4 linked regions of the Homo sapiens genome follow. The protein of the gene in region 4 purifies or fractionates together with the protein of the main gene of each other region. This does not show direct contact. Each region holds a gene or a part of one and is shown on either strand. Other genes may lie near its edges. The genes, in order: BRME1, F11, BCAM and PRCC.

Region 1 (7,245 bases), on a different chromosome or scaffold from region 4:
CCTGCCTCATTCTGCAGACCAGGGCACCTGGGCAGACTCTTTAGCTGTGGAACTCGACTTCCTGCTGGACAGCCAGATACAGGATGCCCTGGACGCCTCTGACTTCGAAGCCCCACCTGAGCAGGTGAGAGCTGCCCTGAGTGACAGACATACCTGCCCAGGGCAGGCACCCAACCTCCACAAGCCCCCTCCTCACTCGGTGCAGTGGCAGAGGGGGAGCTGGGGCTCAGGGCTTACCATTTACACAGCCAACGACTATAGGAGTCCGAGTTGCAGCTCTACTGGGTGTGGAGTCGGTGGTTTTCCAGAAAGTGTAGACCTGCCTTTTGGTGGTTGTCGACATATCTAGGGATGGTGACACACAGCTGCTTTCTCAGCCGGGCCCCCCACATTGAACTGGAGTCCCCAGGAGTGCCAGCCCCTGGCAGCTTCTGCTTCAGTGCCTGACCCTGGCCGTGGGGTCCCAGGGGATGTATTGAGGCGGGTAGACACAGATGGAGAGAAGCTGGGCCTGGGGATGGCTTTATACCTGGGCCTGGGGAGGGGGCTTCACTCCCAAGCTGCAAAAGAGCCTTTGCCCATCTCCTTAGGGTCCTCTGGGGGTCCTGATATGATTCTTTTCCAAACATACATAAGTCATTTTGTTTTTCTGCCAGAACGTGTAAGGGCTTTGCCTCCTTCAGGGATCTGCCCGCCCCACCGGCTGCCCGGATGTGGCCTCCTCTGGCTCCAGAGCCGGTGCCAGCCGTTGGCGTTCATTCTCCTGTCTGGGCAGATGGCAGCCTTGCTTCAGCCCTGCCCCCCAGGGAAAGAGCGACCTCCCTAGCCGTTGGCACACCTGAGCCTGGGCTGAGGGCATCACAGTCACGCCCAGGGAGGTAGGCAGTTCTCTGTCCACACACTGGGTGTGGCAGTGAAGACTCTGGAGGAGTTCGTGCGCCTGCTAGAGGTGAGGCAGGTGGGAGGGGAGGAGGCCAGGCTGGCACCCAGGTCATGCCCCAGCCGCCGCGTCCTGGAACGCAGAGTCCAATTTGCTTTTCAAATGTCAGCCTCTGTTTCTTTGGCTGTCCCTGTGTTGAGATGTTAAAAAAAAAAAAAAAAATTCATGGCCAGGCACAGTGGCTCCCACCTGTAATCTCAGGACTTTGGGAGACCGAGGCAGGAGAGCAGGACCAGCCTGGCCAACATGGTGAAGCCCCATCTCTACCAAAATACAAAAATTAGCTGGGCATGGTGGCGTGTGCCTCTAATCCCAGCTACTCCGGAGGCTGAGGCAGAAGAATCACTTGAACCTGGGAGACTGAGGTTGCAGTGAGCCAAGATCGCGCCACTGCACTCCAGCCTGGGCAAGAGAGCAAGACTCTCTCAAGAAAAGAAAAAATTAGCCAGGCATGGGGATGCATGGCTGCAGTCCCAGCTACTTGGGAGGCTGAGGCAGGAGAATCACTTGAGCCCAGGAGTTTGAGGTTGCAGTGAGCCGAGATTACACCACTGCACTCCAGCCTGGGTGCTGAACTCCCTGTCTCAAAAAAAAAAAAAAAGTGAGTCACAGTGTGGTTCAGTGGTAGAGGCTGAACACGAGCATGTGGGAAAGGCAGGAGTTCTGGTGCTGGGCACAGCTGAAATTTTATGAGAGCTTCATGCCTTGCAAAATGCAAATCCCTCGCTTGAGAGAAGAGCCGCCTCCATTGCCTCCAGTCTGTGGTCTCGTGAGTGGTGGCTTGGAGAGAAGGCTGGGAAATGGTTAAGGTGTTTGGGGCCAGGTGTGCCTAGGTGGCATCCAGCAGGTGAAGCCCCTAGCCCTCCTAAACGGGCTGCCAAACTGCAAGCTTGGAAAAAGACCCTGAAATCCAGACTTGGGGGGATCCAGACAGACAGCCAGGCTGGTCAAACCCGACCAGCATTAGCAGCCTTTCCCCAGCCAGGGGAGGAGGCACCGCCCTGACAGCACTGCCAGGGCCTGGGCGTGTTTGGCTTTGACACGAGGCGTTCCCCAGCAAGTTGAGGCGACCCAGGCAAGGAACACATTCCCGTGGGAAGGTTCCGGGTGGCTCCCGGCAGGAAGGCCGAGGCCCGTGTCTCCCAACATGGGCAGGGGCACGGGGAACAGCAAAGATGGATCGAGCGGGCCGTCTCAGCACCTCCTCCTGACCTCACTGTGGCCACACACTGTGCTAGAGGAGGGGACTCAGAGGTGACACAGCAGAGACAGAGCTTTCAAACCTCAAACCAAGGTCTCGTCATGGGAGGGTTTGGTGTTACTTTCTCATAGATCCTTTGCACTCACTCTTGGACTGATGGAGCTTCTGCAATCTGCATATGGAGTCATTTAATTTAAATTTTAGAGACAGGGCCTTGCTCTGTCGCCCAGGCTGGAGTGCAGTGGCACAATCACAGCTCACTGCAGCCTCAACCTCCCGGGCTCAAGCAGTTGATCCTCCTGCCTCAGCCTCCCAAGTAGCTAGGACCACAGGTGCGTGCCACCATGCCCAGCTAATTTTTTTTTTTTTTTTTTGTACAGACAGGGTCTCGCCGTGTTGCCCAGGCTGGTCTGGAACTCTTGGCCTCAAACAATCCTCCCACCTCAGCCTTCCAAAGTGCTGGGATTACAGGTGTCCCCAGCCTGGCTCATTGCCTCTTTTCTGAGGGACATCATAGGTCACCACTGTAACGGAGCTTAACATTTTCCATGGAAATTAAACCACCATTGACGCTTAGAAGCTTAAGCGCCGTGGAGTTACCAGGCTTTCCCCTGTATTCACTGGGAGTTTTCCCCTCGTGTTATATTTGCAAACTCCTTTCCTAACAGGATGTCTGTGGCACATTCAGCCAAGGTAGACGACTCCACTTCACCGCAGTTGCCCCCGCTTTGTGTTTTCTCTGTACCCGTAAAGACAGTGAGGGGCATGCAGGAGACTGCAGTGGTGTCAGGGCCAGAGATCATGGCACAGTGGTGCCCCCACTGCCCAGATCAGCCTGTGGGAGGCCCGGGCCTAGGAGCGGACACCAGGGTTGGCTGTGGCCTTTCTCTTTCCAAGGGGAAAGGACGGGCGCAGCCCAGGCTGGTAGCCTCGGGTCTACCCATCGTGGATTTCCTCCCCGTTACCGCTCTTCCTCTGCAGGAGTCCCAGCCAGCCCCGATGTGACCTGCTGTGGCCGCGGTGAAGCCAAAAGCATCAGCGTGACTTCTGGTTCCCCTGTGCAGAGCTTGCCCGACCCAGGCCTCGACCACTCACACCTTGTGCTCTCTTTCCAGCTCTTTCCTTCGGGGAACAAGCCGGGCCCTTGCTGGCCGGGCCCCAGCTCACATGCCAATGGAGACCCTGTTGCAGTGGCCAAGGCCCAGCCGAGGTAGGTGTGGCGTGGGTGAGAAGTGGCTCCAGGACCCTCACAAATTTTACCAAGGAGGGTGACAGATGGAGGAGACAGACCCCAGTTCTCCCTCCCTGGGCCTCGACTTCCTCAGTCCAGCAGGGGAGCTGAGCCCTGTCTTTCAAACTGTATACATTCCCCTGCTCCCCGAAAGCAGAGAATGGGCGACAGTGACCAGTGATCGACACCCAACCCAGCATCTCCCCACCCAGAAGCTCCCCAGGAGCCCTGGGACAGTGCCTCCGGCTCTGTGGGCTCTTTCTCTCTGGGAAGAGGGGCCAAAGCTTCCTCCTGAGTCCCTGGGAAGGGGAGGGGACCCAGACAGGGCTCAGAACTGTTGGCTGAGACCATCTTGGAGCTGTTCCTAGCTCTGGCACCAGGCGGGCACCCGAGTGAGTCTAACCTGCCCTCACCTCCTCCCCTCCCCACTTGGCTCTTGCCCTAGGCGAACCACCTCCTCCCTCCCACAGGCCACCAGTGAGCCGTCCTCCAGCCTGCTGTGTGTGAGGAGGGCACCCTCTCCCCCGCACCATGCCCGGGGTCTCCGCAGCCTGTCCCCTCCTCCCGTGCCCTCCCACAGCCCTCCTCGAAGCCAGCGCTGGGTGGCTGCCCTCTCTGTTACCTGGCACTTGAACCTGCCTCTCTGCAGAGGCGGCAGCTTATCAATTATTTATGGCCAAGTTTCTGTTTCTGTCTGGCAGGGGTGGAGGAGGGTTTGGGACTCAGCCCTTGGCTGTGTGTGGCCCCCACACCCTCCTCCTCCTTCTCCTCCCCTAGCAGAGGGCGGCTCTGTCCCTGCCTCCTGCCGTCACTCCCTGTGACTTGTACCTGCTGTGCCACTGGCCACCTCCCTTAGCCACACACACAACCTGCACGTGGACCAGAGGCAGTTCATCAGAGCGGCCCGCTGTGGTTTGAGTGAAGAGCCGGGAGGGTTCACATCTGAATCTCCGACAGCGTCCCAGGGCCAATGCAGCTCCCCTCCCCACCGTCCTGGATGTCTGGAAGCTCCCAGAGGGCCCCGGGTCTGGTTTGGTGGCTTGAGGCTGAATGACACACACAAGAGGCTAAGACCCAGGGGCTGCCAGACACCTCAGGGTGACCAAGGCAGGAGCAGCAGGACAGCAGTTTCCATAGTGACAGCCCCGGAGGTGCTGCGAAGCCTGGGGCATGGGCGGGTTTAGGGCGGGTGGCCCCCACTTACCCGCCTGGCCACCTGTACTGCCTGTGTCTGAGAGTGGCACCTGTTCTGTGGGGTGGGGGAGGTGTTCTGTGGCTCCTTGGCTCTTCCGTGATTTTTTTTTTTTTTTTGAGACACAGTCTTACTCCCATCACCCAGGCTGGAGTGCAGTGGTGCAACCTCAGCTCACTGCAGCCTCGATCTCCCAGGCTCGCATGATTCTCCCACTTCAGCCCCCTAAGTAGCTGGGATTACAGGTACCCGCCACCACACCCGGCTAATTTTGTATATTTTTTTTTAGAGATGGGATTTTGCCGTGTTGCCCAGGCTGGTCTCAAACTCCTGGATTCAAGTAATCCACCTGCCTCAGCCTCACAAAGTGGTGGGATTACAGGCATGAGCCATCGTGCCTGGCGGGATATTTTTTAGATAGAGTCTTGCTCTGTTGCCCAGGCTGGTGTACAGGATCATAGCTTACTGTAGCCTCCATCTCCCAGGCTCAACTGATCCTCCCACTTCATCCTCCTGAGTAGCTGGGACTACAGGCGCGCACCACTATGCCTGGCTAATTTTGTATTATTTGTAGAGATGGGGGTCTCACTACATTGCCGAGGCTGGTCTTGAATTCCTGGGTTCAAGCCATCCTCCCACCTTGACCTCCCAAACCTTCCAAGGATATGAATGCCATCTGGGCTGGCCTTTCTAGCACTGCCCTGGGTGCTGGGGAGGCAGTGTGGGACAAAACACAGAGTTGAATGCTACTGGGGGATTCGGGGTGTGGGGACATGAGAGACAGCAGATTAGATAGTCAGATGGCAGAGTGTTGGGGAAAAAAAGGCAGCGGAGAAGGGGTTAAAATGTAAGGAGGAATCAGGGAAGCCACCACCAGGAGGAGACATTTGGGAAAGAACATTCCAGAATCCTGAGAGGTGCTCAAGGAATGGCCAGGAGTCTAGTGTGGCTAGAGCCGAGGGGAGGGGAGAAGCGGGGGATGAGGGGAGGGCACGGGGCAGGCAGGTGGTGCACAGCTGCGGGAGGAGAGGGCTTGCCTCTGAGCTAGGTTTCCAAGTTCACAGCCCCCAGTGCCTGTGGGGGACAAGCCACAGGGGCAGGAGATAGGGAGGCGGTGGCAGCAGCGTCCTGAGAGGGCAGGGCAGGTAGGGGAGAAGCGGTTGGGTTCTGGGCCTGCTGGGCAGTGGAGCCAGCTGGGTTGGCCATCAGGGTTCTGTCGTGAACAGAGGAGGACAGGCTGGACACCTGGAAAAGATGGCGCGAGGCCCTGCGGAAGCCCCTCCCACTGGAGAGCTCTGGTAGTCCAGTGAGGTCGGGCCACTCTCAATTTCCTTCCCTGCTGGCCAGGACCTTCGTGGGGATCCAGGCCTCTGAGGCCTCCAGGATGGAGGATGCCACCAACGTCGTGCGTGGCCTCATCGTTGAGCTCTCCAACCTGAAGTACGGGGTGGGCTTGGACTCACGGCACAGGGTCTGCGGGAGGCCAGTGGGGACTCAGAGGAGCAGGGAGGGACTGAAGTGTGAAGCCCCTAGGTGGGCAGCGAGGGTCAGGCACCTCACTGCTGCTGGGTCCTCACCGTGGCCCCCCTCCCCCGTCCTTTGCAGAACACAGGCTCTGAAGAAAGGCTGCAACAGGCCCAGCCTGTGCTACAACAGGCCCTTTCTGGTTATGTGCACGTGTGTGAGCCGTGTGTGTGCACCTGAGTCATTGGTGACCATGTGGCTGTGAGGCGCGGCCCCCTCTGTCACCTGGTGACCACTGAGCCCCACACGCATGCCTGTGTTTCCCCCACAGCCGGCTGATCATGGGCACCCACCGGGACCTGGAAGCTTTCAAGCGCCTTAACTACCGGAAGACAAAGCTGGGAGGCAAAGCCCCCCTGCCTTACCCTTCCAAGGGGCCTGGGAATATCCCTCGAGGGGACCCACCCTGGAGGGAGTTGTAGGCCACTTTGAGGTCTGTGTTTCCTTTGCCACCCAGCCCCCATGTCCGCAGACCTCCTCCAAGATGCTCCAGGGGGTCCTAGTGGACCCTACAAACCTCCCTTCAGTTGCCCGGAAGTTGGTCTTCCATGGACAACACAAAGGAGGCCGTGAGGTCCTGGCCTCACCTGGCCAGGGTCAAGGTCATTTGCCACCCTTGGCTTCAGGGAGGGAAACTGTGTCTCCCACAGCCCCAGTGACTTCAAGCGGGCCTGGGCTCCAGGAAGCTGGCCACCTCTGAGCAGGGCCCATCCTGTCCGGATTTGCAAATTTTAGGGTCCTGAGCCAAGTATGGATGGTTCAGAATTTGTTTCTTTCCTGGAGGAGAAGAGAGCTCCCTTTGTTTTCTTTCTCCCCATTTCCATTTTATTTCTTCTGGGAAGACCCATAATAAATGATTCTGTAGAGGCCCCGTGACCTGCTGTTTGGGGCTGAGGCTTCAGTTCCTTCACCTTCCGCCCACAAACCTCTCTACCCACTTCCTCCTCCTCGCCCTCTACGAGTTTTATGCCTCAGCTTCCCTGGGAAAGCAAGGGGGGGGCGAATCTCCAGGGGTGGGTGACTGTGTGCCCACATCTGTGTGCAGGCTCTTGAGCATACACGCGGGTCGAAGCCTAAGAGACGCCCTGGGCGATCATCCAGCTGCAGGGTGAGTCCTGCGCTCCGGTGGCTTGGCCCATCCTCCAGGACAAGCTGCC
Region 2 (7,978 bases), on a different chromosome or scaffold from region 4:
GAAGAGGTGAAATGATTAGCTCAAGGTCACTGGCAAGGACAGAGCTGGAACAAAGCTCAGCATTCCTATGCCAGGCAATGTCCTCTCACTGATATCCGGTTGCTTCTCACTAGGAGAAGGATGAAAGATGACAGAGCATTTATAACCACCATTTGTTATTTTCATTATCAACTGACACTGGTGTTTCTCTGCCCGGAGCGATTTTGTCCTCCCTTCACCTCAGGAAACATTCGGCAACGTCTAGAGACACTTTTGGTTGTCCTAATGGGAGAGGGTATGCAACTGGCTGTAGTGGGTAGAGGCCAGGGATGCAGCTAAACATCCTGCAGTGTGTGGGACAGCCCCTCGCAAGAGAGAGTTATCCTGCCCCAATATCAATAATGCCAGGGTTGGGAAAGCCTGATCTCATGTCAGCATTAAAACCTTGTAATGAAAAGAGGACATTTCGGCCGGGCGCGGTGGCTCACGCCTGGAATCCCAGCACTTTGGGAGGCTGAGGTGGGCGGATCGCGAGATCAGGAGATCGAGACTATCCTGGCTAACACGGTGAAACCCCGTCTCTACTTAAAATACAAAAAAAAAAAATTAGCCGGGCGTGGTGGCAGGCACCTGCAGTCCCAGCTACTCGGGAGGTTGAGGCAGGAGAATGGCGTGAACCCGGGAGGTGGAGCTTGCAGTGAGCCGAGATCACACCACTGCACTCCAGCCTGGGCGACAGAGCGAGACTCCGTCTCAAAAAAAAAAAAAAAAAAAAAGAAAAAGAAAAACAAAAGAGGACATTTCAGGAACAGCAAGAAAGGGGTTGTAGGACATGGCGGGCTGTGCCCTTTCTCTTCCTTTATTTTTTACTTTTTGATACATTCTATTTGTACATATTTGTGGGGCACATGTGAAATTGTGTTATGTGCATAGAATGTGTAATGATCAAGTCAGGATGTTGGCATACCCATCACCCAACCATTTCTATGTGTTGAGTACATTTCAAGTCCTTTTCTAGCTATTTAGAAAACTATAATACCTTGTTGTTGACTGCAGTCACCCTACTCTTCTGTCAAACATTAGAAAGCATTCCTTCTATCTAACTCTGTGGTTGTACCCCTTCACCAACCTCTCTTCGTCCTCACCACCACCCCCCCACACACACCCTTCCCAGCCTCTCGTAACCACCATATACTCTCTACGGCCATGAAATCATCTTTCGTGGGATCATGCAATGTTTGTCTTTCTGTGCTTGGCTTACTTTACTTAACATAATGACCTCCAGTTCCATCCACATTGCTGCAAATGGAATGATTTCCTTCTTTTTTATTGTGTCCATTTTCAAAGCAAGTTCTGAAAGACAAGAGAAGGAGCTCTGAGAGTTGATTATGGCCATGCCTGAGAAGGGGTCTCAGTCAACTAATGCCGTTGTGGACATTCCTGTCCCAAGCAGAAGGCTTTAGGTCACAATATGTCCAAATGTCCAATACATCTCCCACCTATGATCCATTGGAAAGAAAACAAACCTCGGGACCCCCAAAATCACTAAGCCACATGGAAAAGTAAAGCTGGGAACTGCATTGGGCAAACCTTCCTCCCATTCTATTCCTAAATAAAATAGCTTTCTTAAGCTATAAAAAACCTTTTTTAAGCTTTAAAAAGGTTTTAAAAAGCTACATTCCTCACAATTTGCCCATGAGGAAATTCCTTGTGGAAAAAGGACAGGCAGAAGTCAGAGTCACCCCTCTGCTGACATGAGACAGGTGCGTATCTGATTGCCTCGTTTGCCATATTGTTTCACTGGGCCACACTAAGGCATGAGTGACTATTCTTGTAAATTGCGTATTTGGTGAAAGGCTAATTGGAAACTCGAAAAAATGCTTCTGTTTGTCTCTTATCTACCTATGACCTGGAAGCCCCCTTCCCTTCTTCGAGTTGTCCCACCTTTTAGGACCAAACCAATGTACATCTTGCATAGATTGATTGATGTCTTATATCTCCCTAAAATGTACAAAATCAGCTTGGGCCCTGACCACCTTGGACACATGTCATCAGGACCTCATGAGGCTGTGTCATAGGTACATCCTTATCCTTGGCAAAATAAACTTTCTAAATTGATTGGGACCTGTCTCAGATACTTTTTGATTTAGAATCCTAACTTCTGACTTGTACTTGGGTCTCTGCAGACTAACTTCTATATTCTTCCTAAGACTTTGTCTAGTTATTCCTCATTTTCATCAGTCTTCGAATATTCAAAAACATTTCATTTCATTGAAAAAAAATTGAAAAAAGTAGTTGATATCAGAATTTTAAACTGCAATGCATTAGTTGAAAATAATTTTTTAAGGATATCTATGGTCAGTTTAAAAGAAAGGTCTATTTAATCTCAAAGAGTTTCTATGTAGTCAAGACTTTTATTCTAGGCTGGGCACGGTGGCTCATGCCTGTAATTCCAGCACTTGGGAGGCCAAGGCAGGTGGATCGCTTGTGCCCAGGCATTCCAGACCAGCTTGGGGAACACAGCAAAACCCTGTCTCTACAAAAAATACAACAATTAGCCATGCGGAGTGACATGCGGCTGTATTCCTAGCTATTCAGGAGGCTGAGGTGGGAGGATCACCTGGTGGCTGCGTTGAGTGGAGATCACACCACTGTACTCTCGTCTGGGCGACAGGAGTGAGACCTTGTCTGAAAAAAAATTATTCTACTTTTATTTGAATAGACAAAATTTTTTTGAATCCTGATACTATTTCAAAGACCTTAAAGATTTCACTAACTAGCTAAATCAAACTTAGGAAAATATTATTTGGTTTTCCAGTGAAGCATTTCTCTTATTTAGAGCCTTTCTGTTTCTCTCAATAGGGTTGGAGAGTTATCCTTATCTTCTTTTTATTGGGGCTTAAGAAGAGAGATGAGGTTCCATGGAGTAAACAATACAAGGATATAAGGACCTCATATAATCTCACGTATCCATTTTCCATGAAAGCCATTCTTGGCACGAATTTGCCATTCTATGTTTGAGCCTCATAAAAGGCAATGCATCATAAATATGCACTTTTTGGGTAGCTGGAATGTACTTTAAACGGGAAACTCAAGAAAACAGCTAGGAACTCTTTATGCCAGGATAAGTCAAATGCACTGGCAATAGATCAAATAAAAATATCTGAGTAAATGCCTTCCAGATAGAACATCACCCTAGTTCTTCAGCACTTTACAAAAAGATCTGTTCTCAGTTCACATTCTCTTAATTCCCTGTCATTTCTCCCCGGTCTTCCAAATATGTTTTTTAAATTATGATTCCATGTATAAACACAAGATCGTATTTTGCTTTTCTATGAAAAATTGAGAGCCTTCTCTGAACCATAAACGTATCTTTCTCCAAAATGTATTCAAATCAGGCATATTGAAAACTGTTTTGTGTTCGTGTTGTGAGGTTTTTTAGGGGACCGCACAGAAACCCTCAGCACTAGTTAGTGCCTTGTGTTCTAAATGAGGAAACGGAAGCCAAGGACCTGCAGGTGGCTGGGGACTGTGCACAGGCTGGTTCCGCTCAAGTCACATGACTCGTCAGCCAGTGAGTAGGTCTGGGTAGCAGTTGGCATGGATGAACATGCCCTCCATAGGCTTTCAGACCTTCTTCAAGGCCAAAGGGAAGGCCTTCATGGAAATATAATTATGTGAAACACCCCAGAATTTTTTCACAAACTTTCCTGCCTATAAACGCCAGGTCCTACCACTGTCCAGTGTCCCACTTCCCACTGTCCAGTGGGAAGACTCCCTCCAGGACAAAACCACCCTTTCCTTCAGGGATGTGACGTGCTGTGCTTTCGTTGACAGTCATGCAGCTGCTAGACATGTCACTTCCTAGCTCTCCATTCGGGTCTGTGTCCCAGGACCTAAAGAAAGCTAAAAGAAGCCGGGCGTGGTGGCTCATGCCTGTCATCCCAGCATTTTGGGAGGCTGAGGCTGGCGGATCACTGGAGATCAGGAGTTTGAGACCAGTCTGACCAGCATGGTGAAACCCTGTCTCTACTAAAAATACAAAAAAAGAAAAGAAAAAAGAAAAAAAAATAAGCTGGGCGTGGTGGCGCGGGCCTGTAGTCCCAGCTACTCCGGAGGCGGAGGCAGGACAATCACTTGAACCTGGAAGGCGGAGGTTGCAGTGAGCTGAGATCGCGTCATTGCACTCCAGCCTGTGCGACGAGAGACTCTGTCTCAAAAGAAAGAAAGAAAGAGAGAAAGAAAGAAAGAAAGAAAAGAAAGAAAGAAAGAAGAAAGAAAGAAAAGAAAGAAAGTAAGAAGCAAGCAAGCTGAAATAGCTTATTTTTCTGTTTTAAAAAATAGACTTTTAGTGTTCACAAGTAAGAATAAAAAAAAAAAAAGCTTGGCCTTAGGAGGAATCCTATCTGCTTAGGCCTCTGAGAGGCAGCGTCACCTGAAGGGAAACTGACTGGGCAAGAGCCAGGCTCTTAGGAGCTGTCTGTACTTTGCTTCCCATCCGTCCGCTCTCCCCCAGCAGCCAAAGTCTCCTCCCTCCATTATATTGCAAATCAATGAATCCATTAGACTTTCCATGTTTTCTTTTTAGACTTTGAGATTCAAGGTCAGCTAGAATTAATGGTTAACAGCTGACAGGTGAAAGTGTGGTTAAATGCAGCTTTGGCTAGCAGGCACACAGGCAAAATCAAGTTCTACATCTGTCCCTGTGTATGTCACTTGTTTGAATACGAAATAAAATTAAAAAAATAAATTCAGTGTATTGAGAAAGCAAGCAATTCTCTCAAGGTATATTTCTGACATACTAAGATTTTAACGACTTTCACAAATATGCTGTACTGAGAGAGAATGTTACATAACATTGAGAACTAGTACAAGTAAATATTAAAGTGAAGTGACCATTTCCTACACAAGCTCATTCAGAGGAGGATGAAGACCATTTTGGAGGAAGAAAAGCACCCTTATTAAGAATTGCAGCAAGTAAGCCAACAAGGTCTTTTCAGGTACAGTTTCAGAACTTACTATTTAACATTCCTCTCAAGCAAATACGCCTTGAAATGCTTTTTTTAAATCATAGGAATTTAAAAACACTTTACAATAGAGAATGATTGATTTTTAAAATGTGTCTGATTTAGCTTTGTAGAGATGTTCCGCTAATATCCATAACTAATCTGAGAGGAAATGTGGAACAACAGAAGAGTAACAGTGTCTACTCAGTAACAAGCGTTTTACGAGTTAAAAAGACATCCAAATGCAGTACTGAAAAATCAGAAGTCTTGATTTGTCTCACTGATGACTCCGTTTTTCCTAGAGCAGTCTGTTTAATGCTTACTGGAGATAAATAGATTTATAGGTGACCAAGACAATCGATTAATGTATCAGCCACAGACTTTTTTAAATAGAAAATTTTCTAAGTAGGAAATCATTCATAGCTCTTTGAAAGATATAGGGAGAGGCCTCAAGGAAAGAAAGAAAGGAAAAAAATTGGGAAAGGAAACAAAGATGAAAAATTGGGGTGGGGAGAGCGGTCAGATGGTGGCCATGAGAAGGATCTGAACACAGAGAGCGGCGGGGCCGGCGGGGAAGGAGGGAGGAGGGGAGAGCGCTGCTTCCCTGTGGGTTCCGGCTTCTGCAGAGCTGTAAGAGTTGAATGCCACACACAGTCACACTAAGGAATGCTCCAGGATTGGGAAAGAAAATTCAACATTATAATGAGAACACTGTGAATGCTATTGAATTAACTACTCCCCTCTCTCCCTATTTCTTGTAAGTCTTAGTGTCAGTAAACTAATTATAAATTTACATTTTATGTTCTAAAAGCATGCACCTTTTTCTCATTGTAGGATGATTTTCTTATATCAAGTGGTACATTTCATTTTATTTACTTCAGTTTCTGGTGGTAAGTAGAGTGTTATCTTAACTATGGGCTGGGAGAGGGAAATCACACTGCAATCTCCACACATGTGGGAGAATCCCACACCATTTATGCCGGGAAGGAAATAAAATGTTTTTATTAACTTCCTGCCTGAGGCTCCAGAGGTTTTCAAAGCAGGGTAGGAATTGAGGTGAAAAAATTGTTTGTACTGGTAGGAATCTGTGTCTATATGTGTACCATATCTACATCCATGCCTACATACATCATTCATTTAAATGATATTTAAAAGCAATATTAAAAAGAAGAAATCTTGATTTGCCTCACTAATTAGTTGGTTTTTCATAAAGCAGTCAGTTCAATGGAACATACACACACACATAAAATAGGAATTTTGTACTGAAAAATGTTATGTAACTATTCATACACAGTTTATGCATTTCAATAATTTAACTACCCTGTTAATTCTCCACCCTATGTCACATCTGCTAAATTTGTTTATAAATTACTTAGCCAATATTAAGTAGGATATATCAGTACAGGTATTGTTTAGTTCCATGACCATTCTTTATTTAAAATGAAAGCTGAAGCATTCCTTTAGAAAAATAGCTTATGTCTACATGTTATATTTAATTTCTGATACTATTGCTAGCATTTTAAGCATAGTAAATTCTTTTTGCTGGCCTATGTGAAAAAAGGCAAACCTAGGTGAAGATATTAAAAGTAAATTCCACTTAATATATTAAATTACACAGCTCATAATTTCAATTTTCTCTGTGACAAGACTACTGCTCAGGTTATAATATTCCTTTGTTATAATTATCTGGAAATTGTATTGTTATTTCATTGATAAATATGTCAGCGCTAAATAATTTGATATATTTTGAACACTGGACCCAATAACTACATAAACAATTGACCCTGAATCAGGGGTTCCACATCCATGGATTTAAACAACATTGAAGTGAAATTTTTTAAAAAAAATTATATCTGCACTCAACATGTGCAGAGTTTTTTCTTGTCATTATTCCCGAAACAACACAGTATAACAACAATTTGCATAGTATTTACATTGTACTAGGTATTATAAGTAATCTAGAGATGATTTAAAGTACACAGGAGGCTGTGAGTAGGTTATATGTAAATACTATGCCATTTTCTATCAGGGACTTGAGCGTTCATGGATTTTGGTATCTGCAGGAGGTCTGGCAGCCAATCCCTCATAGATATCAAGGAATGATAGTGTACATATTTAGGTCCTTTATACATGCACATGGAACATTTACAAATATTGACCACACACAAGCCTCTGAAACAAGGCTCAACAAATTTTAAGGGGTTAAAATTATACTGATCATGTTATTCAATCACCGTGAATGGGAGCTAGAATAATAATAAAAAGGGAATTGAAAATCTGCAAACGTTTGAAAATTGAGTATTTATAATCACCGTGAATGGGAGCTAGAATAATAATAAAAAGGGAATTGAAAATCTGCAAATGTTTGAAAATTGAGTATTTATACCTTTTTAGATTAAGATGAATCAGAGATGAAATCACAATGGTAATTAGAAAAGGAATTGTACAATAATGAAAGTACAGTATATCAAAACTTTGAGATGTAACCGAATCAGTGTTGAGATCAAATGTATAGATTTACATGTATACATTAGAATACAGAAAAGGGAAAAATTAATGATATAAGATGACAAGAAGATAGAGAATAGCAACTTAAGTGCTAAGAAATTAGAAGGCAGAAAGAAGAAATCGCAGAAATTAATTAAATGGAAGACACACATATTTGAGAGGTCAACATAACCCCTTTCTAGCCCATTTTATAAGGTCAGGGTAATCTTGACACCAAAATCTGATAGGAAAATTCTGAGGAAAAAAAGTCACAGGTCTTTTATCTTATGAACATATGTACAAATGTCCTAAACAAAATATTATCCAACTTAACCCAGTAGATTGTTAAAAAAATTAAAGGATGATTACATTGTGATATTGTGACAAAGTTGGGTTTATTCCAGGAATGAAAAGTTGATTTAACATTCAAAAATCAATAGATGTGTGACTTCGGGGTACATACCGAAAAAAAAGAAGGGAAAGCAGGAACTCACACAGATATACTT
Region 3 (7,245 bases), on a different chromosome or scaffold from region 4:
AAAAAAGAGGAAAGAAAATGAGAGACAATCGGGAGAGGGAGAGACCAAGAGGAGAAGGGATGGGACCGGAATGAGATGGAGAAAAGGAGACAGGAAAAATCAAGAACTGATAGGGAATGGGGGCAGGAGAAGGTGGGGAGGGACAGAGGGACCAGGGAGACCCATAACAAGAGGAAAAGAGGCAGAGCCAGGAGCTGCAGAGAGAAAGGACCCAGAGAGAGAGAGACTGAGGAGCGCTGGGACACCCGGAGCTGAGAGCCTGCCCCGCGCCCACAGACCGACCGCTCGGGAGCTCGCCCCCGCCTAGCCTCGGCTGAGATGCAGGGCTCTGAGCTCCAGGTCACAATGCACGACACCCGGGGCCGCAGTCCCCCATACCAGCTGGACTCCCAGGGGCGCCTGGTGCTGGCTGAGGCCCAGGTGGGCGACGAGCGAGACTACGTGTGCGTGGTGAGGGCAGGGGCGGCAGGCACTGCTGAGGCCACTGCGCGGCTCAACGTGTTTGGTAAGTGTCCTCGGGCATCCCCCGAAGGGAGGCAGGCAGGGAGGGGCGCAGGGCAGGGGCTCCTGACGTGAACGTCTTTTTCACAGCAAAGCCAGAGGCCACTGAGGTCTCCCCCAACAAAGGGACACTGTCTGTGATGGAGGACTCTGCCCAGGAGGTACCTCTCGGGTGGACCTTGGCCCCAGGGTCCTGGAGGAGGAGGGGACAGGGCCCTGGACTCCTGGGTCTGAGGGAGGAGGGGCTGGGGACCCCTGGGTAATAAAGGAGGAGGGGTAAGGCCAGGCGAGGTGGCTCATGCCTGTAATCCCAGCATTTTGGGAGGCAGAGGCAGGCGGATCACCTGAGGTCAGGAGTTCCAGACCAGCCTGGCCAACATAATGAAACCCCGTCTCTACTAAAGATACAAAAATTAGCTGGGTGTGTTGGTGTGCAACTGTAATCCCAGCTGCTCGGGAGGCTGAGACAGGAGAATCACTCGAACCCAGAAGGCAGAGGCTACAGTGAGCTAAGATCACACCACTGCACTCCAGCCTGGGCCACAGAGCAATACTCCGTCTCAAAAAAAAAAAAAAAAAGAAGAAGAAAAGAAAAAAGAAAGGAAGGGCAGAGGGGGAAGACTCCTGTGTCCTAGGAAGGAGAGAGCTGGGGGACCCAGAATCCTTGGTCCCTGGAGGATGGTGCTGGAGGCCTGGACTCTTTAGTCTGAGTCGGGGACTAGGAATTTGGACTCCTGGGTCCTGGGAGAGTCGGGAGTTAGGAGCCCGGCTCATGAGTCTGAGTGGGGAGAACTCCTGAGAGAGGAGCCCCGACTTCAGAGTCCCAGCTCCAAGCCCAGGGCCATGCCCGTGTCTGCCTCAGATCGCCACCTGCAACAGCCGGAACGGGAACCCGGCCCCCAAGATCACGTGGTATCGCAACGGGCAGCGCCTGGAGGTGCCCGTAGAGATGAACCCAGGTGAGCAGCGCAGGAGCGCGGCGGGACGTGGGCTGGGGTGGGTGGCGGGGCTATGGCCTGGCTGACTGCCACCTCCCCCGATCTCTCCCAGAGGGCTACATGACCAGCCGCACGGTCCGGGAGGCCTCGGGCCTGCTCTCCCTCACCAGCACCCTCTACCTGCGGCTCCGCAAGGATGACCGAGACGCCAGCTTCCACTGCGCCGCCCACTACAGCCTGCCCGAGGGCCGCCACGGCCGCCTGGACAGCCCCACCTTCCACCTCACCCTGCACTGTGAGTCTGTGCTGGCCTTTGACCTCTGACCTCAGGCTCCACACCTCATGAGGCCTGACCCTCCACCCGGGGGCTTCACACTCCCCTCTGACCCTCTGCCTCCCTACTTCATGCTAAAAAAAAATGTGCTAGTGCTGGCCACTGACCTCTGACCTCAATTGGTCGCACAAGCCCCATCCTGACCTCTGACCTCCGACCTCCACTTAGCACCCTGGACCCCATGAAGTTTATGACTAAATGGTGCTTTCCACCTTCTCACACTGAATTGGGTCCCCCCATGACATCTGGCTCCAAGTCTCACACTGACCCATCGCCCATACGGACCTCTGACTCTTGACCTATACTCTTAGTTTATTTCAACCTCTGAACTCTGGCACTCAGAATAATTGTGAACCTGAGGCTTGAAACCTATGACCCGTAACCTTTGACCCGCCATAGCCCTCACCTGGGATGCAGGGCTGACCTCTCGCCTGTCCTCTAGCCTTGACCCTTCCCCTGATCACAATTCCCATCTCCCTGCCCTTCCCTTAGATCCCACGGAGCACGTGCAGTTCTGGGTGGGCAGCCCGTCCACCCCAGCAGGCTGGGTACGCGAGGGTGACACTGTCCAGCTGCTCTGCCGGGGGGACGGCAGCCCCAGCCCGGAGTATACGCTTTTCCGCCTTCAGGTGACCCACCCAAGGGTCCCTCTGGGATCCACCCCCCAGCCCCTGACCTCTGTGACCTGCTAACCTGCATAACTTCTAATGTGGGACCTGGGAGTCCCCATGGCTTAGGCAGCCACCTGATCTGGTGGCCCACGAACTAAAAGGACCTCTGACCCCTGATTTGAGAGAGTCAGGACTTAGCATGCCACCTGACTTGATGGCCCCTGACCCCTGATTCTGGCTTAGCATGACACTAACCTGGTGGCTTCTGACCTAGCATGAGCCCGCTGAACCGGGGTGGCTTCTGAGCCTGGTTCCTCGTCCCCCGTCTCCCAGGATGAGCAGGAGGAAGTGCTGAATGTGAATCTCGAGGGGAACTTGACCCTGGAGGGAGTGACCCGGGGCCAGAGCGGGACCTATGGCTGCAGAGTGGAGGATTACGACGCGGCAGATGACGTGCAGCTCTCCAAGACGCTGGAGCTGCGCGTGGCCTGTGAGAGCCCTGGGTGAACGGGCGGGCAGGAGGGGCCCTGGCATCAGTGCCTCTGCGCCCTCCTCCCTACAGCCCTGAAGTTGCTCTGTCATCCCAAACACTCTGCCTTCAACCCTTTCTCTGCATTTCTTGGGGGTTTTTTTGGTTGTTTTTTTTTTTTTTTTTTTCCCAGAGACAGGACCTGGCTACGTTGCCCAGGCTGGTCTCGAACTCCTCATGCGATCCTCCTGCCTTGCTCTCCCAAAGTGCTGGGATTACAGGAGTGAGCCACCGCATCTTGTCGAGAGCTCTTTCCATAGCACAGACCTGACCCTCCTCTGCTCAGAATCTGCCATGGCTCCCCAGTACCCTTGGGAGAAGCCCAGGTGTCTCACCATGGCCTTCAAGGTCCACCTGGCCAGTTCCACCATTAGCTAGCTGATCCTTCTCCCCAGTCAAGGCTATCTCCTCATCACCCCCCAGGCTCCTCTGGTTCCTACCTTCACTGCCCATCCTTCCTACCGTCTATTTCTCACCAATCCCTTGAATCCCAGGCTTCTAAGAATGATTTTCAGTTCATTCGCATCCAGGCCCTGGGGAAAGGCTGTATTCTCCCTTGGCACTTCTTACATATCCCTTCCTGGGGTAGACCCTGCGCCAGATGCTGGGGACACATCTGTGAACAAGACAGACCACCCCTGTTATTTCAGTAGGGGAGACAGATGGTAAATGCTAACTAAGCCCTTTCGTAACAGTAGTGTATCTACAGGTGATATCACCAGTGAGAGAGAGCAGGAGAGGGGATTATTTTAGGTGGCAGGTGTTGCAGTCTGCTTTCCTGAGAAGCAGATTCTGACTTGGATGTTTTCAGGCAAGAAGTTTATGGGAAGTACCCTGGGTTCCGCACCTCTTGGGTCTAGGGAGGTAAAGGAAGCAAGATTTGGCAAGGTGAGAAGTTGGACTGAAGTCTAAGGAAGGTCTCAGGCTGGGTGCAGTGGTTCATGCCTATAATCCCAGCACTTTGAGAGGCTGAGGCAGGAGGATTGTATGAGCCTAGGAGTTTGAGGCCAGCCTGGGCAACAGAGGGAGACCCCATTTGCACACACACACACACAAATTAAAAATTAGCCAGGCATAGTGGCACACACCTGTAGTCCCAGCTACTCGGAGGCCCAGGTGGGAGGATCCCTTGAGTCTGGAAGGTTGAAACTGCAGTGAGCCAAGATTGTGCCACTGCACTCCAGCCTGAGCGACAGAGAAAGACCCCGTCTCAGGAAAAATAAAAATAAAAAAGTAGGCCGGGCCCCGTGGCTCATGCCTGTAATCCCAACACTTTGGGAGGCCGAGGTGGGTGGATCACCTGAGGTCAGGAGTTAGAGACCAGCCTGGCCAACATAGTGAAACCCCCTCTGTACTAAAAGTTAGCCGGGTGTGGTGGCATGCACCTGTAATCCCAGCCACTCAGGAGCCTGAGGCAGGAGAATCGCTTGAACCCAGGAAGCGGAGATTGCAGTGAACTGAGATCGTGCCATTGCACTCCAGCCTGGGCAACAGAGTGAGACTCCATCTCAGAAACAAATAAAAGAAAGAAAGAGGGCCTCAGTCAGCCCCACGGGGTACTTGGAATCCAGGATGGCCCTTCACAGTTGTCCCCAGTTGGGGTGAGGGGGCTGGGCCTTAATAACCTCTACATCAACCAGTCCTCAGAGGTGTGCTGGCCTTAGGCAAGGGGCTCTCAGCAGCTGAGGCAGCTCCCAGAGAGGGGTGACAGCTGCAGGCTGACAGCTGTCATCCTTCTTAGCAGCTGGTGGAATAAGTCCTTCCGTGCTGTAGGAAAGATCTGGGTGTCCACAATAGGGGAGGTCAGGGAAGCCTCTGAGAAGAGACATTTAAGTGAGACTCAGAAAAGCAGACAGCAGCCAGGCACAGTGGCTCACACCTGTAATCCCAGCACTTTGGGAGGCCGAGGCAGGTGGATCACCTGAGGTCAGGAGTTCGAGACCAGCCTGGCCAACATGGTGAAACCCCATCTCTACTAAAAATATAAAAATTAGCCAGGCATGATGGCTGGTGCCTGTAATCCCAGCTACCCAGGAGACTGAGGCAGGAGAATCGCTTGATCCTGGGAGGCGGAGGTTGCAGTGAGCTGAGATCGTGCCACTGAACTCCAGCCTGGGTGACAGAGCAAGAGTCTGTCTCAAAGAAAAAAGAAATTGGCCGGGCACGGTGGCTCACACCTGTAATCCCAGCACTTTTGGGAGGCAGAGGCGGGCAGATCATGAGGTCAGGAGTTTGAGACCATCCTGGCTAACACGGTGAAATCCCGTCTCTACTAAAAATACAAAAAATTAGCTGGGCGTGGTGGCAGGTGCCTGTAGTCCCAGGTACTCGGGAGGCTGAGGCAGGAGAATGGCATGAACCCAGGAGGCAGAGCTTGCAGTGAGCTGAGATCCCGCCACTGCACTCTAGCCTGGGCGACAGAGCCAAACTCTCTCAAAAAAAAATAATAAGAAGAAGAAATGCAGAGAGCTACAAAAAGAGCACTGCAAGTAGAGTGAGCAAGTGCAAAGGCCCTGAGGCAGGCCCCAACTTGGTCTACTCAAGAAAAACAGCAAGAGAACGGGGTAGCTGGGAGCACAGGAGGAATGGGGAAGAGTGGGAGATGGTTCAAGAGGTGGGTGAGGGCCAGACCAGGCAGCATCTTTTAGGCACCCTCAAGAAGTTTGGCCTCGATGCCAAGGGTACTGGGGAGCCACTGCAGGGTTTTATGCAGAGGGGAGGGATGACCAGTGGGTGGTTGGTTTTTTTTGTTTTTTTTTTTTTGAGTCAGAGTCTCACTCTGTCACCCAGGCTGGAGCGCAGTGGCACAATCTCGGCTCACTGCAACCTCCACCTCCCAGGTTCAAGCGATTCTCCTGCCTCAGCCTCCCAAGTAGCTGGGACTATAGGCATGCACCACTATGCCCAGCTAGCTTTTGGATTTTTAGTAGAGATGGGGTTTCACCATGTGACCAGGGTGGTCTCGAACTCCTGACATCAGGTGATGCACCCGCCTCGGCCTCCCAAAGTGCTGGGGTTATAGGCATGAGCCACCGTGCCCGGCCTGACCAGTGGATGTTTTAAAGAGGTCCCTCTAGCTGCTCAGTGGAGGATGGACAAGAGGGAGGAGCAGGCTAGTGAAGAGGTGGTTGGGACAGTCAAACCTGGGGCCAGAGGTGGCAGGAAGCCAGAGGATTTGTCCTGGGAGCAGACCAGATAAAGACTTGCTGAGGCCAGGAGCAGGGGCTCACGCCTGTGATCCTAGCACTTTTGGGAGGTCAAGACAGGAGGATCACTTGAGGCCAGGAGTTTGAGACCCAGCCTGGCCAACATAGCAACACCTTGTCTCTATTCAAAAACAAAACTTTGCAGAAAAGATGTTTGGGGGTAACAGGGAGGTTACCCCACAGGTTGGGGTTTGAGCAAAAGGTTTGTGTGCTAAAGTCACAGAAGGGACACCTTCCACACCTAAGGTTATTCATTAACCTTGGGCTCAGATGTCAGCTCTGAAGAAAAGTAATTGACTTGGGCATGTCAATGTTGGGGTTAGACTGCTAGATTTTTGGTTGGAGAGCCTGGATGGGAGAATGGAGATTTCATGGAGATGGGGTAAACCAGGAGGATTACTTGCTGTTCTCTGCTTCCAACTGTCCATTCATGTTTGCACCCCCGACCGCCCCTGGAGAGCCCCTAATTGAGTGGGTGGCGGTCTGGGACGAGTGACAGACTGTCCCCCACTGCAGATCTGGACCCCCTGGAGCTCAGCGAGGGGAAGGTGCTTTCCTTACCTCTAAACAGCAGTGCAGTCGTGAACTGCTCCGTGCACGGCCTGCCCACCCCTGCCCTACGCTGGACCAAGGTGAGAGGGAGAGGAGCCCCCTCGGGCCCTGCACTCGCACCCTCCTCTCTCCCCTCACTCCTCGCCCTCTCACAGCGTCCTCCTCCTCCTCTGCCCTTCCCAGGACTCCACTCCCCTGGGCGATGGCCCCATGCTGTCGCTCAGTTCTATCACCTTCGATTCCAATGGCACCTACGTATGTGAGGCCTCCCTGCCCACAGTCCCGGTCCTCAGCCGCACCCAGAACTTCACGCTGCTGGTCCAAGGTTCAGGGGGCAGGGAGGGGGTGGGCTTGGATGGGGACAGTGTGGGGTGTGGGACCTGGACAAACAGGACGAGTTCCTGAGTCCCTGGCTGGGGACTCCATCTTCTGCTCGATGCCTCTCTTCTCTCTCTCTCTCCTCTCCCTTCACTTTCTTCCCATCCCCACCACCCACAGGCTCGCCAGAGCTAAAGACAGCGGAAATAGAGCCCAAGGCAGATGGCAGCTGGAGGGAAGGAGACGAAGTCACACT
Region 4 (7,127 bases):
GTTTCATCATGTTGGCCAGGCTGGCCTCGATCTCTTGACCTTGGGATCCACCCGCCTCAGCCTCCCAAAGTGCTGGGATTAGAGGTGTGAGCCACCATGTCCGGCCCTCATTCTGTTTTACTGGAAAACTTTTATTATGATTACTTTCGAAAGGCTCATAGATGTACCAGTTACAAATTTCTTTTTTTTTTTTTTTGAGACGGAGTCTTGCTCTGTTGCCCAGGCTGGAGTGCAGTGGCGCGATCTTGGCTGACTGCAGCCTCTGCCTCCCGCATTCAAGCAATTCTCCTGCCTTAGCCTCCCGAGTAGCTGGGACTACAGGTGCACGCCACCACGCCCAGCTAACTTTTTTGTATTTTTAGTAGAGACGGGGTTTCACCGTGTTGCCCAGGCTGGTCTCGAACTCCTGAGCTCAGGCAATCCACCTGCCTTGGCCTCCCAAAGTGTTAGGATTACAGGCATGAGCTACCGCGCCTGGCCTAAATTTCTATTCTTTAAAATTTTTACTGAGACAGGGTCATGCTCTGTCACCCAGGCTGGAGTGCAGTGGTGCGATCTCAGCTCACTGCAGCCTCAACCTCGCAGGCTCAAGCGATCCTCCTCTTTCAGCCCTTCCCAATGAGGTGGGACTACAGGTGTGTGCCACCATGCCCATGCCCGGCTTTTTTTCTGTTTTTGTTTGTTTGTTTGTTTGTTTTTGTAGAGACAAGGTTTCACCACGCCTGGTCTCCAACTCTTAGACTCAAGGGCTTCTCCTACCTTGGCCTCCTTAAGTGCTGGGATTACAGGCGTGAGCCACCGTACATAGTTAAAAATTTCTTTTTTTTTCTTTTCTTTTGAGATGGAGTTTTGCTCTTGTCACCCAGGCTGGAGTGCAGTGGCATGATCTCTGCTCACTGAAACCTCCACCTCCCGGGTTCAAGCGATTCTCCTGCCTCAGCCTCCTGAGTAGCTGCTTTTTGTATTTTTAGTAGAGACAGGGTTTCTCCATGTTGGGCAGGCTGGTCTGGAACTCCTGACCTCAGGGGATCCGCCCGCCTCAGCCTCCCAAAGTGCTGGGATTACAGGCGTGAGCCACTGCGCCTGGCCTTGCCCAGTTACAAATTTCTACAGGTATAAAAGGGTACATAATGAGAAATAAATCCCCTTTCCTTCACTTTCATGAAGTTTCTATTATCAATTTCTTGCTTGAAAACACTTTTTGAGGATTTATACCCAATAAGGTGAATCATTAATTTTCACAGTAAGGGGATCCTCGCTTAGAAAACATTTGTTAAACACAGTCTGGCCAACATGGTGAAACCCCGTCTCTACTAAAAAATACAAAAATTAGCTGGGCATGGCGGTGCACACCTGTAATCCCAGCTACTCGGGAGGCTGAGGCACAAGAATCACTTGAAGCTGGGAGGTGGAGGTTGCGGTGAGCCAAATTTGCGCCACTGCACTCCAGCATGGGCGACAGTACAAGACTCTATCTCCAAAAAAAAAAAAAAAGAAGAAGAAAGAAAACATTTGAGACAGGTCCCTGTCCTTTAGGGGCTTCTCTGCAAGCTGGCAAGATGTGTTGACAAACAACAAGGACAATCATTTCTCTTAGTTCTAAGGCATTTCACTGTGTGTTAGTATCAGGCATTTCTCACAGAAGTAGGACAGGGCTCTGTAATACTTTATCCGCGCCCCCCCCGCCCTTTTTTTTTTTTTTGAGACGGAGTTTCACTCTTGTTGCCCAGGCTGGAGTGCAATGGCGTGATCTTGGCTCACCACAACCTCCGCCTCCCGGGTTCAAGCGATTCTCCTGCCTCAGCCCCCTGAGTAGCTGGGATTACAGGCGCCCGCCACCGCACCCGGCTAATTTTTATATTTTTAGTAGAGACGGGGTTTCTCCATGTTGGTCAGGCTGGTCTCGAAGTCCCAATCTCAGGTGATCTGCCCGCCTCGGCCTCCCAAAATGCTTGGATTATAGGCGTGAGCCACCGCACCCGACCTTCTTTATCCATTTTTCTTTCTTTCTTTCTTTCTCTTTCTTTCTTTCCTTTCTTTCCTTCTTTCCTTCTTTCTTTCTTTCTTTTTTTTTTTTTTTTTTTTGAGATGGAGTCTTGCACACTTGCCTGGGCTGGAATGCAGTGGCGTGATCTCGGCTTACTGCAACCTCTGCCTCCCGGGTTCAAACGATTCTCCTGCCTCAGCCTCACGAGTAGCTGAGCTTACAGGCGCCCGCCACCACACCATGCTAATTTTTGTATTTTTAGTAGAGACGGGGTTTCACCATCTTGGCCAGGCTGGTCTCAAACTCCTGACCTCGTGATTCACCAGCCTCTGCCTCTCAAAGTGCTGGGATTACAAGCGTGAGCCACCACACCCGGCCTACTTTATCCATTTTTCAAAGGAGGAAAGTGAGACTCAGAGAAGAGAAGTGACCGCACAGTCACCAGAGAGTACGTTGGGGAACCTAGATTTGAAAGCAGATTTTAGAAATCAACATTGTGCAAGGCATACTAGCTGTGAGGTAGGACTTGATGGTCTAGTTTCTCAATGTGGTCCTCAGTGCCTGGTTTGCAACTAACTGAGTAGTTTCTTACAGATCCAGGCTTCCAGGCCCAACCCACATCTATTGAATAGGAATCTCTTAGGCTAGATTTCAGGAATTTATATTTTTCAGAAGCTTTCCTAGTGATGCTTATGCACATTAAAGTTTGAGCACAGATTGCTCTAAGGAGCCTTCATGGAGAAGGCAGCATGGAGTTTGTCTCTGAAGGGTGGAGAGGTTGGGGAGGAGGTGCCCCATATCAGGCTCGTCTGATAGAGGATTCAAGCTTGGGCCTTTCACTGTCTCTCTGCATTGTGGTCATCATTGTCCCTCCTCATCAACCTTTCCAATTTTCTCTTCAGCCTCCTCCCAAAACCTCAACAGCCTTTTCTCTGGCTTCGCTCAACAGAATTTTCTGCAATCTGGGAACAGGGAGGTGGTGCCCACACAGAGATGAATTAGCATGTAAAGGACACACACATACAGGGCAGACAAGTAGAGGGCACTCAGTCACAGGCAGACAGGAAGGGGGCAGAGATGGGTAAACAAGAAAAGGATACAAAATCACAAGCGGACAGGGAAGGACTGGCGCACAGCAGATCATCACAAGCAGACATAAATGGGCTGGACAAGGACTCCTATAAACATGGATGGAAAGGAAGGGCACTTACAGAGACAGATGTAAGAAAGTCACATACAAAGCCATAAGAAGCAGCACTCACAGACGTAAAGGAATGTAAAGGACATCTGCAAATGGATAGGTGGGAGGCACAGCCAGGTAGGACGGACTCAAGTGATTCCTCAGAACGGTCGCCCTTTACCCCACTGAGCTGAGAAGGGATTAACCTCAAGTACCTGGCCCGGATTGTCAGAGCCTTGCCCATCTTTGTCTCACTGGTTGCTGCAGAGGGAGGCCAGGCCCCAGGCTCCAGGGTAAGGTGTGTTCCTGGATGTGCACCCCGATCCTGGTGAGGGAGATCACCTCCTCCCTTTTACGTCACATTTATTTCAACTCTTAGATGCTTATTATTAGACCTGCAGCCTCGCTTCTTTCTGGCTTGCAGCCCAATTTCGTACGGGTCCCTTGGGCCCTTGCTCTTTTTGGGATGTTTTATTCTAATTCCCAGTCCCAGCCGACTGGGAAGCTTCACCAGTTCATTTACAGATCACTTTGCCTTTAAGCAATTTTCCTCAATCCGCCAGCTTCCCAGACTCCCTTTCGTTCCCGACATCACTTGCAGTTTCTAAGAGCATCATATCTCCCAGAAATCTTAGTGGCCAAGGGGCTACCCTAGGGAACTTCAAGTACCGAAATGCTCTCCTGTCCGTCTCAGTGACTGCCGTGGTGACCGGTGGGGCTTGTAGTCACCTCGGAATTGTTAGGCGACGAAAAAAACTACTCACCCCAGGTGTCCCTGCGTCAGAGGCGGGTTTCTCTCCTGTCTCCCTTTGCTCGCCCCTAAATCCTTCCTCGGACTCCAACTCCCGCCGTGCCTTGCGCTGAGATCCCTGCGGCAAAGAACCGGGCTGTGTCCAAAGTGTTCTCTGGAAGTTGTAGTTCCTGTATTGGTGAGGCAAGGAGGAGGCGGAGTGACTCGGCGGCCATTAGCTGTGTGTAGTTGCCCGGGACTAGGAGCTTAAGTGAAGAGGTACGCCTTGTTCGGTGGAAATCAGCCGTAGCCATGAGTTTCTGCCGGGGCTAGCCCTAGAGTACGGAGCAGGCGGACTTTTCGGTTCCCCGCCCCGCCAGGTGGCGGGGCCTACTAGGCCTCCGGGCATCCCCGGTCTCAAGTAGGCCTCATCTGCCGGCAAGGGCGCCCGAAACGCGGGAGGCGCCATGTCGCTGGTTGCTTACGCCAGCAGCGATGAGAGCGAGCCGGATGAGGCTGAGCCCGAGCCGGAGGAAGAGGAGGCGGTGGCTCCTACATCTGGGCCCGCTTTAGGGGGCTTGTTCGCTTCTCTCCCTGCGCCCAAGGGTCCGGCCTTGCTGCCTCCGCCCCCTCAGATGCTGGCGCCAGCCTTTCCCCCGCCGCTGTTGCTTCCCCCACCCACCGGAGACCCCAGGCTTCAGCCTCCTCCCCCCTTGCCCTTCGGCCTGGGAGGCTTCCCCCCACCTCCAGGCGTGAGCCCGGCTGAAGCGGCGGGAGTTGGGGAGGGACTGGGATTGGGGTTGCCCTCGCCCCGAGGCCCTGGCCTCAATCTGCCCCCTCCAATTGGCGGTGCCGGTCCCCCGCTGGGGCTTCCCAAGCCAAAGAAGAGGAAAGAGCCCGTGAAGATCGCGGCGCCGGAGTTGCATAAGGGAGATGTGAGTATCCGGGGAAGGCACCCCCAAACTGTCCATCGGGTTTGAGTCGGCTGTAGGAGGGACATGTGGAGATTTCAGAACTCCTTCCTACAAACGCATCCGTGGATTCAAGGCCACTGGAATCCTCTTATAATGCGATTAATTGAGCTGAAGTTGGTCAACTTGGGGGAGTTTGGGTGTTTGCCCATGTGGGTTTCCTGAAGCTGGGCTTGCCTGCAGAAGGCCACATGTCATCATCACCTGGTACTGACAGGCCTAGGGACACTTGGATCCGCTCCCCCTTCTTTGCATCTTCACTTCAGTCCGGCTTTTTCCCCTTTCCTCCTACTGAGAACAGGATGAAATCTGGCACCTGAAGAATGACAGGAGACAGGGCTCCTGAACCTTTGCCGAACATCTGGGACAAATCTTTTCCTTGCCTCTGAACTCAAAAGCATCAGGCCTGGAGGAAAATGATAGCAATCTTGGTTTCTATTTTTGAGGGGAGTTAGAGGAGAAATCGAATATTTGTTTAGTGCAGATCATTTGCCGTTCATTGGTCCTTTCTTTCAATTATTACAGAGCTCTGGGAGGTAACATACTATTGTTTTACAGATGAGAAACAGGTGTCCAGCATGCACGATTTTACCTGGTAACAGGGCAGAGTGAAGATTAAGATTAAGGTTCAGTCTCTCTGAACCTCAGATCTGTGCCTCATATTCATCATTTAGCTATGGTCAAAGCTAGGTGAGTTAGGATGCTTGGGTACTGTTTCTAGAAGAGGCAGCGAGTCTTACCTGTTTCTATATGTGACAGTGGAAAAATACAAGGCTCCTGGAGTGAGGGCTTTGGAGATAAAGGAGAGATTAAGCCTTGGAGCAGGAACTGCTTAGAATTACTTACCGGAGAGAAATTTATTGCCCTTGCTTTTCTTCAGACTCCCAGCTCTGCCTAGGAGCCATTTCCATTCGTTGAACTTGCTGTTCCTTAAATTTCTTCTCTCAGATATCCTAATGTTCTCTCCCTCACCTCACTTGGCCTAAAAGGCCTGTTTTCGGTGAGGACTTCCCTAGCCTACTATGTATTTAAATTGCAACCTCCTATCACCTCCTCCTCCCCATTGCTCTTTGTTTTATTTTTCTCCATTGCACTTAACATCATCTGTCCTCCCACTAGTATATAAACTCCATGAAGGCAGGGATTAAAAAAAAAATTCACTGCTATAACCCTAGTACTTAAAACAGTGCCTGGCACATACTGAATACTCCCATGGATATTTTGTGAGTGAAAGAACTCCAATATGGATTTTTCATGGAAGGAGTTTCCAGAGTTTCCCTCCCAATCTTGTTTGAAACTTTCTTCCTTTTTTTTTTAAATTTTTTTTATTTTTATTTTTTTTGAGACGGAGTCTCCCTCTGTAGCCCAGGCTGCAGTGCAGTGGCACGATCTCTGCTCACTGCAAGCTCCGCCTCCCGGGTTCACGCCATTCTCCTGCCTCAGCCTCTCGAGTAGCTGGGACTACAGGCGCCCGCCGCCACGCCTGGCTAATTTTTTTGTGTTTTTAGTAGAGACGGGGTTTCACCATGTTAGCCAGGATGGTCTCGATCTCCTGACCTCGTGATCCACCCGCCTCAGCCTCCCAAAGTGCTGGGATTACAGGCGTGAGCCGCAGCACCCGGCCACTTTCTTCCATTTTATTTCCCCCTTCTTTCACACCTGAGAGTCTCTCATCCTAAGTCTAGGATCCAAAAAAAAAAAGCCTTTTATTGCTCCATGGAAACTTACTTTGGCTTTGATTTAACCTGGAACAAGGAAAGATCCCTGAATGAGACAAATAAAAACAGTCTACATGGACATGGAAAGCTCATTTCTAGCTCTGTGAAGGTAGCATTATAGAAAGTTGGGAGAGGCCGTAGAATCTGCCATTTGGGTTGGCTGAGGTGGCAGAAAACTCTGAAGACTAACACTCCCTCCTTTGTAAGCATTCACTAAATTTCTGAGGTGAACAGTAACATGGCTAATTAAAGTCCTAGCCCTTGCTGGTTGAGTTTCCCATTTTTGTTCTGTTCAAGTTGGTCTTTTGGTTCTCGGAACACATAATTCCTGCAGAAAGGTAGCCTAAGAATGTTCAAGATGGTCAGGTGAGGGTAACCTTTGTCTTTATTTATCTTTTGAGATGTAGTTTCGCTCCTGTTGCCCAGGCTGGAGTGCAATGGCACAATCTCAGCTCACCGCAACCTCCGCCTCCAGGGTTCAAGCGATTCTCCTGCATCAGCCTCCCGAGTAGCTGGGATTACAGGCATGTGCCACCACGCC

The links.
Region 1: the proteins of PRCC (region 4) and BRME1 purify together in Homo sapiens (affinity purification with mass spectrometry; 2 studies listed by BioGRID and IntAct, with this or other methods). This does not show direct contact.
Region 2: the proteins of PRCC (region 4) and F11 purify together in Homo sapiens (affinity purification with mass spectrometry; 2 studies listed by BioGRID and IntAct, with this or other methods). This does not show direct contact.
Region 3: the proteins of PRCC (region 4) and BCAM purify together in Homo sapiens (affinity purification with mass spectrometry; 2 studies listed by BioGRID and IntAct, with this or other methods). This does not show direct contact.

What each region holds. Positions count from the first base shown.
Region 1 is NC_000019.10:13,882,067-13,889,311, reverse strand, and holds the end of BRME1 (break repair meiotic recombinase recruitment factor 1), read left to right. Parts: coding exon 1-124; intron 125-3,256; coding exon 3,257-3,351; intron 3,352-3,817; coding exon of another isoform or gene 3,818-4,193; exon of another isoform or gene 4,194-4,809; intron 4,810-5,911; coding exon 5,912-6,004; intron 6,005-6,359; coding exon 6,360-6,510; 3' UTR 6,511-6,964; downstream 6,965-7,245. UniProt on the Homo sapiens protein: Meiotic recombination factor component of recombination bridges involved in meiotic double-strand break repair.
Region 2 is NC_000004.12:186,261,317-186,269,294, forward strand, and holds the start of F11 (coagulation factor XI isoform 1 preproprotein), read left to right. Parts: upstream 1-4,872; 5' UTR 4,873-4,979; intron 4,980-5,819; 5' UTR 5,820-5,820; coding exon 5,821-5,875; intron 5,876-7,978. UniProt on the Homo sapiens protein: Factor XI triggers the middle phase of the intrinsic pathway of blood coagulation by activating factor IX.
Region 3 is NC_000019.10:44,811,887-44,819,131, forward strand, and holds part of BCAM (basal cell adhesion molecule isoform 1 precursor), read left to right. Parts: intron 1-276; coding exon 277-505; intron 506-591; coding exon 592-662; intron 663-1,363; coding exon 1,364-1,460; intron 1,461-1,551; coding exon 1,552-1,734; intron 1,735-2,265; coding exon 2,266-2,402; intron 2,403-2,717; coding exon 2,718-2,874; intron 2,875-6,635; coding exon 6,636-6,751; intron 6,752-6,854; coding exon 6,855-6,996; intron 6,997-7,169; coding exon 7,170-7,245. UniProt on the Homo sapiens protein: Transmembrane glycoprotein that functions as both a receptor and an adhesion molecule playing a crucial role in cell adhesion, motility, migration and invasion.
Region 4 is NC_000001.11:156,763,408-156,770,534, forward strand, and holds the start of PRCC (proline-rich protein PRCC), read left to right. Parts: upstream 1-4,127; 5' UTR 4,128-4,364; coding exon 4,365-4,832; intron 4,833-7,127. UniProt on the Homo sapiens protein: May regulate cell cycle progression through interaction with MAD2L2.